Linked DNA regions of Homo sapiens: region 1 is linked to region 2. A link means that fine-mapping ties the variant in region 2 to the expression of a gene that starts in the linked region. Tissue or cell type: monocytes after Pam3CSK4. Region 2 holds a variant in brackets; the other region holds the start of a gene. All regions are shown on one strand. Distances are from middle to middle.

Evidence for each region. PIP is the estimated chance that this variant, and not a neighbour inherited with it, causes the effect.
Region 1: FNDC3A starts here. The variant in region 2 is fine-mapped to the expression of FNDC3A in monocytes after Pam3CSK4 (Quach 2016, PIP 0.95).

The regions. Positions count from the first base shown.
Region 1 is chr13:48,972,016-48,980,199 of GRCh38, forward strand. It overlaps FNDC3A (fibronectin type III domain containing 3A), which reads left to right and starts at 3,897. Exons shown (of 26, transcript NM_001079673.2): 1 at 3,897-4,162. RefSeq lists enhancers at 3,102-3,161, 3,432-4,051, 3,862-4,161, 4,052-4,671, 4,832-4,931 and silencers at 3,612-3,881, 4,212-4,691.
Region 2 is chr13:48,850,484-48,858,667 of GRCh38, forward strand. No RefSeq gene overlaps it. Among named protein-coding and RNA genes, the nearest start is that of FNDC3A, 120 kb to the right of the region's middle. The variant G/C (reference allele first, on the strand shown) is at 3,523.

The DNA.
Region 1 (8,184 bases), 120 kb after region 2:
CCCACTGTACTTTGTCAAGAACTATGAAAGGTCTGAGATTTCATCCTCCTTGCAAGCTAATCACTTAACCTGCTATAGTTTCATGGAAGCTGGCAGAAGACGTGGGGCTTTGCAGTCAAAGGGCTGTATTACTCATGGCACAGCAAGCAGCGCCAGTGTCATGTTCAGTCAGTTCCCTTGCCCCCAGGTCTTACCTGGAGCTACATGGTGTGGTTCAGGTGAGTGATGCACCTGCAGTGGGTTTGCCTCACAGCTGAGAAACTCTATCTAAGCTTAGGAAATCCCCAATCTTTTTATAATAGGCTGCAAGAAAACCTGCTTGACCTTTACCTCCAAAGACATTATCTTCACTATATTGGATGGTAAACAAATGTGCCCCTGCTCTTGGCGGGGAGGGGGAGCAGGGCAGGGGACACTATGTATATTTTCCAAGGCAGTTTGACCAAAAAAAAAAAAAAATCCTTGAAAATATAGTCTAAAACAAAAGCTGTTAGTGCCTCTGCTCACAAGACATGCAGAAATACTAGAGTCCCACAGAGAATTGTCTTCCAGCACATTTCTGCATTTCTTCCCACTAGTCATACAGAAGATTGCTCTCTTGAAAATGATCAGTGATCTAATTTCCCGATCTAACAACCTTCTAGAATCCCAGAAATAAACTCATAGGACAATAATCATTCAAGAAATATTTATTGGGTAGCTTCTATGTGCCAGGCACTGTGCAGGCCCAAATAGACATGGTCTTTATCCTAATGTGGGGAGCAACAGACATTAACCTAGTAGTTACACATACCAAAATGTAGTTACAAGCTGTGGTAAGTCATAAGAGGGGAGGGTATATGGTGGTAAGAGAGCTGACATAACAAGGTATCTTGAATGTATCTGGGAGGTCAGAAATGTTTTTCCCAAGGATGTCGCTTTCAAGCTGAGACCTGAAGGATGAGTAAGAGATAGGATAACTAAAGGAGAGAATGGCATGTACATAGAGCCTTTGGTTGTTGGGATCATAGCATTTTTGAGAAACTAAAAGAAGACCAGGAAGTCTGCCCAGGAAACAAGGTGAAAATGGTGTGAGATGAGGCTGGAAAAGGCAGGTAAGGCCAGACCTCGTATGGTCTTTTAGGCTGCCTTAAGAATTCTAGACTTATCCTAAAGCAATGAGAAACTGTTTAAGGAGATTTTTGGAGTAGTGACATAGTCTCATTTGCTTTCTTAGAGGATAATTTTGGCTGCAAAATGGAGACTGAATGGAGGATCCCAGATTGTATACAGTGAGATCGAATTAGATTGGTGGTGATTGGAAAGAAGTAGACCAATTAGATTTTAGAAATAAAATTGCCAGGAGTTAGTGCTGCAACAAATATGGAGAATGGAAGAATGGAGGTGAGGGAGACATCAGCGGTTACTGACTACTAGATATTTGATTTGAATAACTAGAGAGATGGGGGATAAGGAAAACAAGTGTTCATGAACTCAGTTGGACTAAACTTTGCAACTTTGAGATATTAAGTGGCCATGTCAGTGAAGCTTGGAATTTAGAGGTAGGGTCAAACTTTGACTAGTGGATCAGATTTGGAATTTAGAGGAAAGGTCTGGGCTGGAGGCATATATGTGGAGATCACTGGCATATAGATGATAACTAAAGCCATTGGCGTGGGTGATGCTGCTTAGGCCAAGAGATTACAATGAAAACAGAAAAGAATCTAAAACTGAATTTTAAGGTACTGTTATATTTAATAGTTAGGGAGACCAGCAGGAATATGCAAAGGAATCAGAGAAGCAGTGCCTAGGAAACTAAGGAGGAAAACCAAGAAAATGCAGTGTCAAAGGAAGAAGAAATGTTTAAGAAAGAATAGTGGTCAAAGTGTTGAGTATTGTTGAGAGGCCAAGAAAGATGAGGATTGAAAATGGCTCCCATTTTATTGATAAAAAAAAAGTGAAGCATTGAGAAGAGAACTTGTTCAAAGCCAACATAATTTCTTGACCCTCTCTCTGTTCCCAGAGAACTCATACTGGTGCACATGCTAGGGTCATTTATGTGTGGGTTTTCTTCTCTCCAAAGGCCATAAATTCCTTGGTCTTCACTTTACTTCACCTTACTGCATTGCATATTATTGACTACAATCTCTAGGTCTTCAATAACATTCTTAAATTATGTGTTAATCTCCTTCAAAAACAGCTGATCTTCTTTACTCTGCCTTTACATGTAGGCATGTCCCAAACATATTTTTTTAAATATAGTTTTTAAAAGTGCCATGTCTTGGCCTCTCCCTGGACAAAGGAATCAGAATCTTGAGGGGGTAGATTGCAGGATTCTGTATTTTCAAAAAGCTCCTGAGTAGGAAGCAGAGTAGGAAAGTATTAGCTTAGCGGTAAGTTTGGAAACCACTATCTTAGTCTCAGACCAAGCATAGTTGGGCAGTAAGATGGGGAAGCCACCCCATTCGCCCACACTCTGATAAAATCCTCATACTTTGAAACAATATACAGTTATACTTCAATTATTCCAAGATCAACTTGCCAGCTGTCTCGAAGAGGGCCAAATCCAAAAGTTAAGAAAAGGAAACATCTCTCACAGGGAAAGAACTTCTGATAGTGAAGAGCAATGAAAATATCTCAAGATACCACTGCCCTATTTACAACCAGAAGAAAAGAAACCTCTCATTAGCTGGCTGTGGACATAAACATCCCATCAATCTTCACCTGGAGCCGCAGAGAAAACCAGCCGAGAAAGGAGAGAAGAATGAAAAATAAACAGTAAAGCAGAAAGAATAAGAGGAAGGATCAGAGTGGATAGAGGCAGATGAGGAGATGAAAAGCAGTGAAGGATTTTAGAAGAGGTGATGAGAACATTCCAAAGAGGGAAAAAAAGAGAGCACCAAAGTAGGGATTCTATACACCGCAGCAATCCTCTGGGACTTAAACGTATGGCCAAGATATCGGTTTGAGAGTCAGTTATCAACAAAGGATTTAATTAGCCATTGTATTCTTTAAGAATATAGAGAATAATCACATTTTAAAGAGATTTCTGTAAAACAGTTTTAAAAATACAGCTATTTTAAAAGATCGCACAATTAATACACTGAAATAAAGCCCAGACATGCAACTTGTTACATCCATCACCATTTTTGAAAGGACAGTTCCTGAGGCTGGACTCACCGGCCCAAGTACTACCCCCTCCCCAGGTCTCCGGCGGCAACTGTAAGTCAAAAGCCCTCAGGCATTATTGCAGCGTCCCACATTGTTTGAGGTTCCAGGAAGTCGCTGCTACGCTCACTTGTAAGTCTTCGTGCTGTTGTAAAAATTGAGGTCGTGGTTTTCCACGCGATTTGGCTGGCGAAGAGACCACGAAGCCACCCCCCACGTTTTCAACTGAGTAAATATCTAAATATTTTTGCTTGCTATCCAGATCCTGGGTTCGAAGTCTTTGGGATTAGAAACTTCCAAGCCCATTTCAGAGGCTTCCTAGTCCTTGGGAGGAGTGTCTTTTAAAGCACCTGCCAGCCTTAAGTTCGCGTGCTTTCGGAAAGGGGCCGACAGGGTGCGTCTCAGGGGAGCCTTTTGAAATGTGGATTGAGAATTGTGTGAGTGTCTCTAGGAACCTCCATTAACTCCACTTTTCCTGAGTGTAGCTCCGAGCCTGGCCACAGCGGATGCTACCACAAGCCAGGCGCAGCCGGGCCTCGGGAGAAAGCCGGAAGCCCGAGAGGGTGTGGGCGCTCCGGGAGCCAAACGCGGCCGCTCAGCCGCCACGCGCCGGTGGCCCCGCGGGGACTCGCGTTCCGGTGAGAGAGCCCCGGCGCGGCGGGCTCGAGGCGGGGGTTCGGGGTCCCGGCCGCGGGCTCCGTCGGCGGGGCCCGCGCAGCCGCACTCGGCGCGCCGACTTCGGGCTCCTCCTCCCGGCTCCGTAGTAAGCATGGCGGCGGCGGCGTTCGTGGTCCCTCGGGTGAAACAGAAAGCGGGAGCTACGCGGAGAGGGAGCGAAGAGCGGGGCTGAGGCGGCGGCGTCACTGCCAGGAAACAACCCCAACAGTCAGCGCGCCGGCGGCCGCGGCGGCCCTGAGAGCTGACTCTGCAGCTGAGGTAGAGAGACAACGATCAGGAACCCTAAGAAGAGGCGCCAGAGGAGCCGCCTTCTGCCTCAGAACGGCGTGACTCGGAGGTGAGAGCGCGGGCACTCCCTCCGCGAAAGGCGGGGGACACCGAGCCGTCCCAACCCCGTCCCGCCCCGGAGGAGGCGCCGCGGAAACCGTTAGGCTGGGACTGAGGGCCGGGGCACTCTCCAGGGCTCGGCCCCGTCGAGGGGCGCGGACCACCCCCTTCTGTGGGCGCGCTGTGGGCAGAGGTGCAGAGGGGCAGTGGGGCCGGGGACAGGACCGGTCTACTAGTCGGGCACCTGCCGGGGCCGAGCCTAGCCAGGACACGCTTGCGGGGGCGCGGCCGGGGGCGCCATCCAGCCCAAGAGGAGGCGGCATCTAGCCCGAGGGAGGTGGCGCTGGTGCGCGGGCGGCCCTTCTCTCTGTCCCCCGCCTCCTCCCCGCGGCGAGCCGCGTAGCTCCGGAGGGCTCGGGGGCGGGGGCGGGGGCGGGGGCTGGGGCGGAATCCTCCTGAGAGGATCGCCCAGCACCCGCGGCGCCTTCGGCTTTGGCCGCCCGGCAGCCGCCGAACTTGAACGCTTTTCTGAAGAGAGTTTTCCCCGCTCATCTTGGGGTTAAAACCTCGAAAACCCGCCCTCTGTTTGATCCTGCGTGGCTGCTTCCAGTACCTGGCAGTTCCTCTCCCCGGGCGAGTTAACCACCTGTTCAGTCGGGAGGTGGACTCGAGGCTGCAGTCCTCGCCCGGTTTTAACAACCTGGATCTTCGAACTTTTGACACGGCTTTGGAAACGACGTCATGTGTTAGGTAAAGGAAAATGAACAGATAATTTCGCTGTCAGATTGCGAGCAGAAGAGGGACTGTTTTAATGGATGTGGTCGTTAATTGTTCTTTTATTCAACTGTTAGCGTTACAAGCCTTGGGATATTTTAGAGGGTGGAATGCGATGATTTGCTGGGGGTGCTAGAGATTGTGAATTCGAGATTTTCTTTTGTGAGATTTTACGTAAGTTCCTTTGGACACCTTTGTGTCTGACCATCTATTAAATAAGAGTCGCAGGCTGATGAGATTTTTTTTTTCTTTTTGCGGTATAATCATTATGTGTTCACTATGGGTTTTTAAAACCGAACAACGTAATTATTTTGCTTCTTACTGTGGTCTGTGTTTTTTAGTTCTTGAAACCAAAGTGTGTATGCTTCTGTATTGTAGGAATGAAATAACAGTTGAACTCTTACTATAATATTTTATCACCATGCTGTTACCAGCTCCAGTACTAAACATACGCCACTCAGGAGTTTGAGCCATATGTTAGGCAGAAACGAATTGAGTTTTGTGGTTCTGATCTTATGTTTGGATAAATATTTAGTTTTTGCGTATTTACTAACTCTTGTCATCTTGTGTCACCCACAAATGTTCAAGTGAGTTGAATCCCCTGTCTTTTGGATATTTTCTTGGTTGAATTAATTTTTCTTAAGTAATGAGATGAAGTACTCACTGAGACAGATGGTGGCCCAACAGAAAACAGTGATGAAGGATTTTTACCACATCTTTTATGAAATATAACCTGAAATGTTGCTTTTAGCTTTGTAGCCTACTAATCTTGCTTTCTAATCACACCAGTTAGTGGGAAGAAGGGATGATGACAGGAGAAACATCTTGTTAAAATTTTAATATTAAATCTTATATTTAAATTTTTTAGCACTACTACATTAAATTTTACTATATTGTCTTGTTTCATTTCATAGATCATCTGTTAGTTTTCTATGTGTAGGTTAACTGGAAAATTTTTTATCCCAGGCTGGCTACCGTTAGCCACCTGTATGCTTCTGAATTAACTCCCTCTTTTTCCCTTTTGTCTGAATCCTCCAAATCATTGAATGCTCCGGAAAAATAAAATCCTGGTTAACACTGTCAAGCATAGTTATAAGGGTAATTAATTTATCCCAAATTAATAATAAGCATTAAAAAAAACATTCTAGGATTATCTTCTTTTGGTGACGTCTGTGTCTTCACTTCCTCTATCTGTGTGAGTAATTGAGACCTGATTTATTTTAACACACATGTAATGATTACTCTTTACTAGTCACATTTCTACAATATAATAGTAAGCATATTTTATTACTAATTTAAAAATTTCTCCCTCTTCCCTGACCAGCCAGACATAGCTAAGGGCTGAGACATCCTTAACCCCCCGAAAAAAAGAGGGAATGCATGATTCATATTCTCATTGTCTTTTGTAGTTTTAGGCAAAGAGCATTTAATTTATACTTTATCAATTTTTAGTAATATTTGCGCTGTTTTAAAACATTTGCATTTTTTAAGATGTTCATGACATCCAAGGCTTGTGTATTTTATAATCTGCCAGTATTTTTAAAATACAATTTGATGAAGTAACCAAAAACGTTTTTTTTTTGAAACATTGTTGGTGCATTTTTGAATGAAAATGAATCTAGATCGTGTCTTTGAGAATGGTGTAGGGATATGCACATGATTTCCAATTTTATTAGCCAGATAACTAAGTGATTAGTGTTTCTGGTTTTTTTTTGTTTGCTTTTGTTTTTTTTGTTTTGTTTTTAGCATTGCCTAGCGGACTTCAAATAAACTCACAATATTGTAATTCCGAAGGTTTAGAATATGGTGCATATTTATTCCATTGAGCCTTTTACTGCTTCAGTTTATCACATTGCAAAACAAGAAATATGGCTCCCATATGTGTGAATGTCAAAAACTACTTGTTAAAACGAAATTAGTGGCCATTAATGTTGAAAGGCAAATTTTGTACTTTTACATGTATTGTGAGCTTTTATAATTTTCTTAATATTTTGGTCTTATTTCAGATAATTATTCAGTGGTCTCTTTTTATATCTTTATTCTTACCTTTCTGTCTTCCCACTGTTGTGGTTTTGCTTGTCTTTAATATATACTTTCAAGTTTTCTGTGTAACCTGTGGTCTTCCATCAAGTTCCTTTGTGGGTGTCATCTTTCAATGTTTCCAATCACTTATCACCCATTACCAGTCCTTGGGCTATTTTTTCCTCCAAGATTGAGAACTACACCTGGGAGATGTCATGTGCTTGCAGGGTGATGCAATGTTATTAAAGTGGGGATACAAACATAGTGTGATGTCTTCCTTCCTTCAAGTAGTTTACAAATTAGTTGGGGGTACTAGACTAATAGTATCATTAGCAAAAATTATAATATGGTATTATTAAGTTGTGTGACACCAACTGGAATTTAAAGGGAAGTGAAGCCAGTGAGAGCTAGAACAATCCTGGAAGGCATTTGGAGGGAGTCAGAGGAAACTTAGAAATGATTTAGATAACAAAAGGAAAGGCATTCCAAAAGAGATTCACAGGCAGAGTTGGAAGTAGTAGTAGAATAAGTAGTCCAAGAGCATCCAAGGACAGAAATTGGGACGAAGAAAGAAAGAAAGTTAGGTCGAGATGTTAGCTTAAGCACCAGGGCATCAGAAGAGGAAAATAGGCAGAGCTGGACAAGACAGTTTGTATCATTAGGAACCTATCACTGAAAGAACTATACCTCAGCTTTGACATATTAATAGCTTAAGCTTTATGTATAATGGATAGCTTATATGTGTTTGTTTGTATGGCTTAGGTCAGGGGTCGGCCAACTTTTTGTGTAGAGTGCTAGATAATTAAATATTTTAGGTTTTGCAGGCCATTTACAGTCTCGGTTGAATGTTCTTGTTTGTTTGTTAGTTTTTTATAATCTTTTAAAAACGTAAAAATTTTTACATTGTTGTCTCAAGAGCCAAACAAAAACAAGCCATCTGTGGACTGGATTTGGCCAGGGGACCTAGTTTGCTGACTGCTAGGTAATAATTGGCAAAGTAATTGTCCATATAGCACATACTGTGAAATTTCTTGCATCATCTTGTCTATATGGTGGTTTGGGCGTTTTATGACTATCATGTATATATTTTTCCTTATGTTATCCTAAAAAAAAAGTATGTAGAAATAAGTGCTTCTGTAATTGTTATTTTGTGGCCAGACTTCTAACAAGAGCCTAGAATAGGTCTCAGAATTAGGAAGTGAAAGACGAAAAGCCTTTGAGTCAGGCCTTACTACA
Region 2 (8,184 bases):
ACATCTAGACCCAGAAGGTGATAATAACACCTAGACCCAGAAACACCCAGAAGGTGGTTTCCCATCAATTTTCAAAGACTGGCGGAGGGGACCCAAATTCTGATGTTCCCTTCTACAAAATCATCAAGGCTGGGGGCAGTGGCTCATGCCTGTAGTCCCAGCACTTTGGGAGGCCAAGGCCAGCAGATCACTTGAGGTCAGGAGTTCAAGACCAACCAACATGGTGAAACCCCGTCTCTACTGAAAATACAAAAATTAGCAGGGCATGGTGGCAGACGCCTGTGATCCCAGCTACTCGGGAGGCTGAGGCGGGAAAATCACTTGAACCCGAGCAGTGGAAGTTGCAGTGAGCCGAGATCAAGCCACTGCACTCCAGCTTGGGCAAAAGAGCAAGACTCTGTCTCAATAACAATAATAATAATAATAATAAATCAAAATCATCAAAGTTGGGATTTAGTCAGAGTTACAAATACCTACCCATTTATTATGAGGACTAAACTCTGATTTTTTTATCTTGCCTAAATTCCTATCTAAGGGGTCTGGGGAGTCATGCCCTACAAACCATAAAATCTCATCAGATGTGTTTTATTTAACCCTATATATCATGACTTACTTTCCAATCTGACTCTGGCATAATATTACATGACAGAGAAGAAAATCAAAATATTTTACCCCAAAATATGTTTCTTTGCCATATATTGAAATGTCCCTGCAAAGCCATCCTTTGTGGGGGAAAATTTGCACCTGTAAAGAATCTCTATTAACATAGCTAGATCTTTTTCTTCCAGGCCCTCCCAATCCTGAAGAAATTAACTGAGAGTTAGCACCTTTTATAGATCTGAATAGGAAACATTTGTCATCTATTGTCTCTAAGGGCAGCCACAATGAGACTTCAAAAGAACCTCAATCTCCACAACTTTTTATCTTAACCTGAACATTTCCTTGCTATTGATCCCAGGTCTTTAGACAAACTCAACCAATTGTAAACCAAAATATGGGAAGCCCCCCAGCCCCACTCCACTTAAAATTGTCCTGCCTTACTGGACCAAGCCAATGTATTTCTCAAATATATTTGATTGATGTCTCATGCCTCCCTAAAATGTAAAAAATCAAGCTGCACCCCAACCACTTTGGACACATGTTCTCAGGACCTCCTGAGGGCTGTGTCATGGGCCATGGTCACTCATATTTGTCTCAGAATATATCTCTTCAAATATTTTACAGAGTTTGACTCTGTCCACTAACAATTACAGATACTCAAAAAGGGAAAAGAAAGGTGTAATGAGAATAAATTTTATCTAAATAGTGACTTTTCTTTGTATGAAGGTGTTTCCTCCTCCCCATGAGGTAACCATTGATACCTTCTCCCCAGTGAGGTAACCACCGAGGTAACCACCGCATTTTGGAACCAGAAAAAATCCTCAGAATCTCTATGATCTCTCCCATCCACTTACCAAATGAGGAAACTGATACCCAGATAAGTCAGATGACATGGCCACAGTGAAAAAACTAGCTACTGCCAGAAACTTACCTGCACTTTCAAAAGTTTCTAGTAAAATAAAAGTGAAAAAGGAAAGAAGGGAGGGAGAGAGGATTGACTAACAGAAGAGCTGCTTTCAGGAAAGTTGCCCATACAGTGAAATTTTTAAATAAAATTCTATGTACCAGTTGATTTTTGTTCTAAAATTGGAAATACAGATAGGGGTGTAGTCTATCGATGGACTCAGTTGAAAAAATTTGCTAATTTAAGAGTTAAAGAGGGAGCCAAACACCCATGGAATGTTGCTGCTGTTGAGCTACAGTGTTGGAAGCAATAGTACTTGGGGCGCTTTTCAGTCAATAACAATTACCAACATTTGTGAGCACTAGGCACTGGAGACTAAATGCTGTTTTCTCTATTCCACACTTAGTCCCCGTGACAACTCTGCAAGGTAAATTCTACAGATCTCCTCATTGTATAGATGTGGAAACAGAGGGCCGGATGCAGTGGCTCACGCCTCTAATCCCAGCACTTTGGGAGCCCGAGGTGGGTGGATCACCTGAGGTCTGGAGTTCGAGACCAGCCTGACCAACACGGAGAAACCCCATCTCTACTAAAAATGCAAAATTAGCCGGGTGTGGTGGCGCATGCCTGTAGTCCCATCTACTCTGGAGGCTGAGGCAGGAGAATGGCTTGAACCCAGGAGGCGGAGGTTGCTGTGAGCTAAGATTGCACCATTGCACTCCAGCCTGGGCAACAAGATCAAAACTCTGTCTCAAAAAAAAAAAAAAAAAAAAAAAAGATGTTGAAACAGAGACAGAGAGATTAATAAGTTGCCCAGGTTCATATGTGGGATGGATCTAGGATATCCTCCTCAGCTCTTATTACTAATACTTCTCCCAAGATCACTGGGTACATTTCTATGGGTTGTATCTGCAAAGGAGCCCCAGGCTGGGGGTAGAGAGGGTGGGGAAATGTGAAGGCTGAAATGTAGCCCATAGTTTCCTTACCAAGCTATGGGGCTGCCTTTTTCTGGAGGAGGCAACCTTTTAAAATCCACACAGACACTTTTATGAGCCAGTGGTGGCCCAACTCCTTTCCCAACTAGTTTCCATGCCTTGAGAATTTTAACTACAAGGAGCCGATATTCTTGGAATTTTGTCCTGTGTCTGAATGGCCAGTTGCCTAATAGAACAAGAAATATTATAGCTCATGCATTTTGTCCATAGGGGTTGCTGCAGAATGTGTCATGGTCTACAGCGTTGCCTGGGCTGGGATCGAGTGGGAAGTAACTGAAAGTGGGCATGAAGTAAGTTACTGAGGTTCTGTGAAAGTGTCTAAAACTGGAATGCAGTGAAACTTAATAAAAATCCAACTATCCACTTACAGTGAGTGAATTGTATGTAAATTGTACTTCAATAAAGCTGATTTTTTAAATACCATGATCAGATCAGCAACTCCTTAAGTTGGAGTCATTCTGTAAAGTCACTCTATAAAGATAAAGCATGTCCAAGAATGAATAATGTCGTGATAAGATTAGATAAGTGTATGGGATCTAAAGACTCAAAGACCAGGGCTTCATGGGCTTCGGAGACCTACACAGTCACACAGAGCCCTAAGCTCAGAAAGACTCTGCCCTAGGCTTTATGACTTGTGGTTTCTGTCCGTCTTGATATTCTTAATGATTTCATTTTTGAACGTGTGCTTTATAAGTGAAGACCAACAGGACAATGAGGCCCGTGGATGTGCAGAGGAGATACCTGCAACATGTGTCCACACCTTGCCACCCCTTTAGCTTATGAAATATAGCACTCAACGTGTCCCATGAACACAGAATTCTAGTGACCCACAATGTGTGGGAATTCCGTGACATTTAAAGCCAGTCAAAACAAGCATATTACTTCCATGACTAAGTATGAGCAAAGAGGGGAATGACAGCCCCCAAGAGGCCACACTTTCTGTTTGAAGCGGAACATGCTTCAAATGCAGACAGAAAGCTTTCTAAGAAAGGCGAATGACCCAGAAACCATAACATTTCCTTC[G/C]TGACTCTTGTTAATTCCTTGCATGAGTGAACCATTCACCCTGAAAATGATGACATCAGAGGAAAGGAAAGATAGAGCAACCCATAATTCCTTTTCCTTCCAGCCTTTCCTTATTTATCAATACACTGAAGGTGGAGAGCGTTGGTAGAATGTGCCCATATCAAAAAATGAATTAAAACAGTTGAGTCCGTTTTGTGCAGCATTTCCACTGTTCTAAGAATGAGATACATACATGAGAGCTACAAAACACAAATCTTATGTCAGTAATTCCGTGGGAATTAAATGCTCTTACATTAGCATTAAGGCTGTCATCACACAGTATAAAGATGAATGCTAAAACTCATGCTAATTTAAAATTTTATTTTTTCTTCACTTAGAATGGCATTAAATAGCAGATTTTTTAAAAACGCTATGACAAGCCAAGAGACTAAGGAAGAAAGGAAAATGTGTTATAGTACCTGTAATAGCACTTCTTTCCTGCATTTTGAACAGTGGGTCCCACGCTCTCATTTTGCACCAGGCTTCACAAATTCTGAAGCAGCCCTTTTAAAGATAAGTGTTGAGCTGGGCACGGTGGCTCATGCCTGTAATCCCAACACTTTGGGAGGCCGAGGCAGGTTTTCACCTGAAGTCAGGAGTTCAAGACCAGCTTGACCAATATGGTGAAACCCTGTCTCTACTAAAAATACAAAAATTAGCCGGGCGTGGTGGCAGGTGCCTGTAGTCCCATCTACTTGGGAGGCTGAGACAGGAGAACTGCTTGAGCCCAGGAGGCAGAGGTTGCAGTGAGCCGAGATCGTGCCACTGCACGTGAGCTGTGATCACACCACTGCACTCCAGCCTGGGCAACTGAGAGAGACCCCCGTCTCAGAAAAAAAAAAAAAAAAAAAAATGTAAGTGTTCAACCTCCTAACTGAGGTTGGAAGAGATTGCATAACTTGCCCAAGATCACAGTTAGAAGCAGACCCGGCTCTATAGCCCAGGACCTACTCCCAGGCCACTGGTCCTTCTACCATTCTTGTAGTCCAAAACAACAAGTTGGTTTAAAACTAGAGATTCCTATAAGAATAATATTTCAAGGCTGGGCACGGTGGCTCACACCTGTAATCTCAACACTTTGGGAGACCAAGGTGGGCAGATCACATGAAGTCAGGAGTTCAAGACCAGCCTGGCCAAGATGGTGAAACCCTGTCTCTACTAAATATAAAAAAATTGGCCGGGCATGGTGGTGGGTGCCTGTAATTCCAGCTGCTCGGGAGGCTGAGGCAGGAGAATCACCTGAACCTGGGAGGCAGAGGTTGCAGTGAGCTATCACACCACTGTACTCCACCCTGGGTGACAGAGTGAAACTCTGTTTCAAAAAAAAAAAAAAAAAAAAAAATCAGTTCAGCAAGTTCAAAGAATGACCAAATTAGACACATTTGCTGCAAATGGCTCTCAGAGGCTTTGAAAAATGGCATTGTGGCATTTTGTTTTAAGCAAGTAAACATATTTTCTGAGCCTAGAATTTTCTCCAATCACTAGAGAGCTTAAATAGATTATAAATACAGCATAGAGAGTATTCATGCAAAACCATTGCAGCTAAATGTCTATTTGTAAAGTCAGCTGGTTTCCAGTTAAAAGTTTGTAAAAGAGGGAAAAATAATATGCTTTATTTAAGTATGAACAGAGGAAGGCCTAGGTCCTGCCTCTTTCCTGAGTATTTAAAGTTCTGTGCCCATAATGGATACAGGAATCAGATGATCACACTGGAGAGAAGTCAAAAGTCTTGCTCCTCCTTTGATGTGAACAACAATCTTGGTAATTGTTGACAGAGAAGTAAATACAACCTGCCCTCTAGTTTTTGAATTCACAAGTAGTAATTATTGTAAGCAAGCTCTAAACCACCTTCAGAAAAATCTGTCTTTGAAAACACAAGATGTGATAGGCAAAACAAATAAAATAAAAACCTAAGTCAATCTGGTTTGGGTTAGAAAGAATCTTTTTGGTAAAATTAAATCTTTGTATCGCCCTTAATGCTTTGAGTCCCATCCCAATGTGGCTTATTCATTACCCACTCTGTAGTTTTCCTTCCTCTAAACCCTCTCCTCCTGCAGTGCCATGGAACTCATCAACAGCTCCTACAATGTAGCAGGTAAGTAAACACTAAGGATTAGGGCCAAGGGTTGGGACAGGAGAGTGACAAACATAATAATTATAGCTAACATTGTTTAAGCACTTCCTATTTGCTGGGCACTTTGCCAAGTGCTTTATGTTCATTATCTTAATGATTCTTCACAACAGTTCTATGAGGTAGGATTATCCCATTTCAACATGAGAATACAAAATCACAAAGAGGTAAAAACTCGCCCTCTAGGTCACACCAAATCTGGAATTCAAAGCCAATCTCGACATCAGATAATGAGATGTCTGTTTTTCTCTTTACCTCTGCCCCATATCTTCTTATTTCCCCATATTGCCCATCCTTAGAGCATCCTGATGCAGAGACATTGTTCATTCAGGTGGTCGAGTATGGATGGTGATATATGGAAAGCATTTTATCCAAGGCCACCATTGACCAGGGTCTTTGTGGGAATTATTATAACAAAAGGCACTCTCCTTTGAGCTGTTGCAGAACAGGAAGGTTTTGCTCCCACTCTTTGCTGGACACCCTTTGGCTGGGCACAACCTCTGCAGTATATGCCAAAGTCCTGAGCTCATCCTAGTCATTTTGAATAATGGTCATTTGAATGTCCAGTACTTTTAAATGACAGCGATATGATGACACTTCACGTGATTACATGTGGACTATCATGTGTTCTAGAGAGGACAAATATGTCCTTAAAAATATACAAAAGGGGGCCAGACGCGGTGGCTCACGCCTGTAATCCCAGCACTTTGGGAGGCCGAGGCCAGTGAATCACGAGGTCAGGGGTTCAAGACCAGCCTGGCCAACAATGTGAAACCCTGTGTCTACTAAAAATACAAAAATTACCCGGGCGTGGTGGCAGGCACCTGTAATCCCAGCTACTCAGGAGGCTGAGGCAGGAGAATCACTCAGACCCAGGAGGTGGAGGTTGCAGTGAGCTGAGATCACGTGATTGCACCATTGCATTCCAGCCTGGTGGACAAGAGCGAGACGAAGTCTCAAAAAAAAATATATATATATATATATACACACATATATATATATATATACACACACACACAAAAGGGGCTGGGTGTGGTGGCTCACACCTGTAATCCCAGCACTTTGAGAGGCTAAGGTGGGCAGATCACGAGGTCAGGAGTTCAAGACCAGCCTGGCCAACACAGTGAAACCCCGTCTTTATTAAGAATACAAAAAATTAGCTGGGCCTGATGGTGGGCGCCTGTAATCCCACCTACTCAGCAGGCTGAGGTAGGAGAATCACTTGAACCTGGAAGGCAGAGGTTGCAGCGAGCCGAGTGTGCACCACTGCACACTAGCCTGGGTGACAGTTGGAGACTCCGTCTCAAAAAAATAATAATTATTATTATAAATATATATGTGTATATATATATATGTGTGTGTATATATATATATATATACACACACACACACACAACAGGTTATTCAACAAATTTGTAGGCTTGTTTCTGTACTCCTCTCTCTGAGCCTCAACTCCCAGGAGACTGAATAAAGACTAGAGAGTTGGGTGCTGTTGAATAGACTCATTAAACTCGATAGCCCTTAATTGGCAGACACACAGGAGGAAGCTCCATGTGTCTTATACATTAGCGTTCCTGAGAGGAAGCAGAACGCAACCATTATGGAAATAAATCGAATCAATAACAGTTTCCCCAAACATAGTCCAAGCCAGTGGGTAAGATAAGAACTAGGTCTGCTTTCAAAACAATGGTCTGATTCTAACCCTGTTGATAACTTTCTTCCTATCCAATCAAGAACTATGCTGTGTTCAACTTGTCTGAATCTTCAGATAGCCATTAATGTTGGAAAATGAGTGGTTTCCTTTGTTCTAAGGGAAGCCCACAGAACACGTCACTGTGGTAGTCTCTAGAATTTACAGCAGGGAATCGAATCTTTCACTGAGAGAACAACAACAAAAAAGCTAATCATTTGGTATGGTTCAAAATGCCAACATTTCCAGGTGGGTACAATACATATTCTCATTTCTAAAGCAGATTGTCAATATTCATGTATTATATTAGAGTCTTGATTTTTTTCAAGAACTAGTAAGTCAAGCTATCTTATTACACCACCAAAATTTGGCTAATTGCAAAATCACTGCATTATATCTACCATAAACCATAGCAAGTTTCCTGCCAGCATGATCACTGTGAAATCAGCTCTTTGAGGCCAAACCTCAAAGGCCCACATAATAACAATGGCTGCCATTTTAGGTGACATAGACTTGGAGTGTATAAATCTCAAATCAGAAAAGACTCCAGTGAACCATCACAGTCTTGCTAGTCTTCAATAACTGGAGAATAGAGCTATAATTTAGTTTGAAGTGCGTATGGGGAGAATTCATGGTGGGAATCTGAGCCTCAGAGAATGCAAAGTCAACTCACTACTAATAGGAAGTGACATCGGTGGCAGCAAATCCTCTGAAGTGGCAAGTTTCTTTCAGGATATACTGTGCTAAGATTAAAGAAAAAAGTTTGTAAGGAAGGGAAGCAAGTGTCAAACAGATAGCAGAC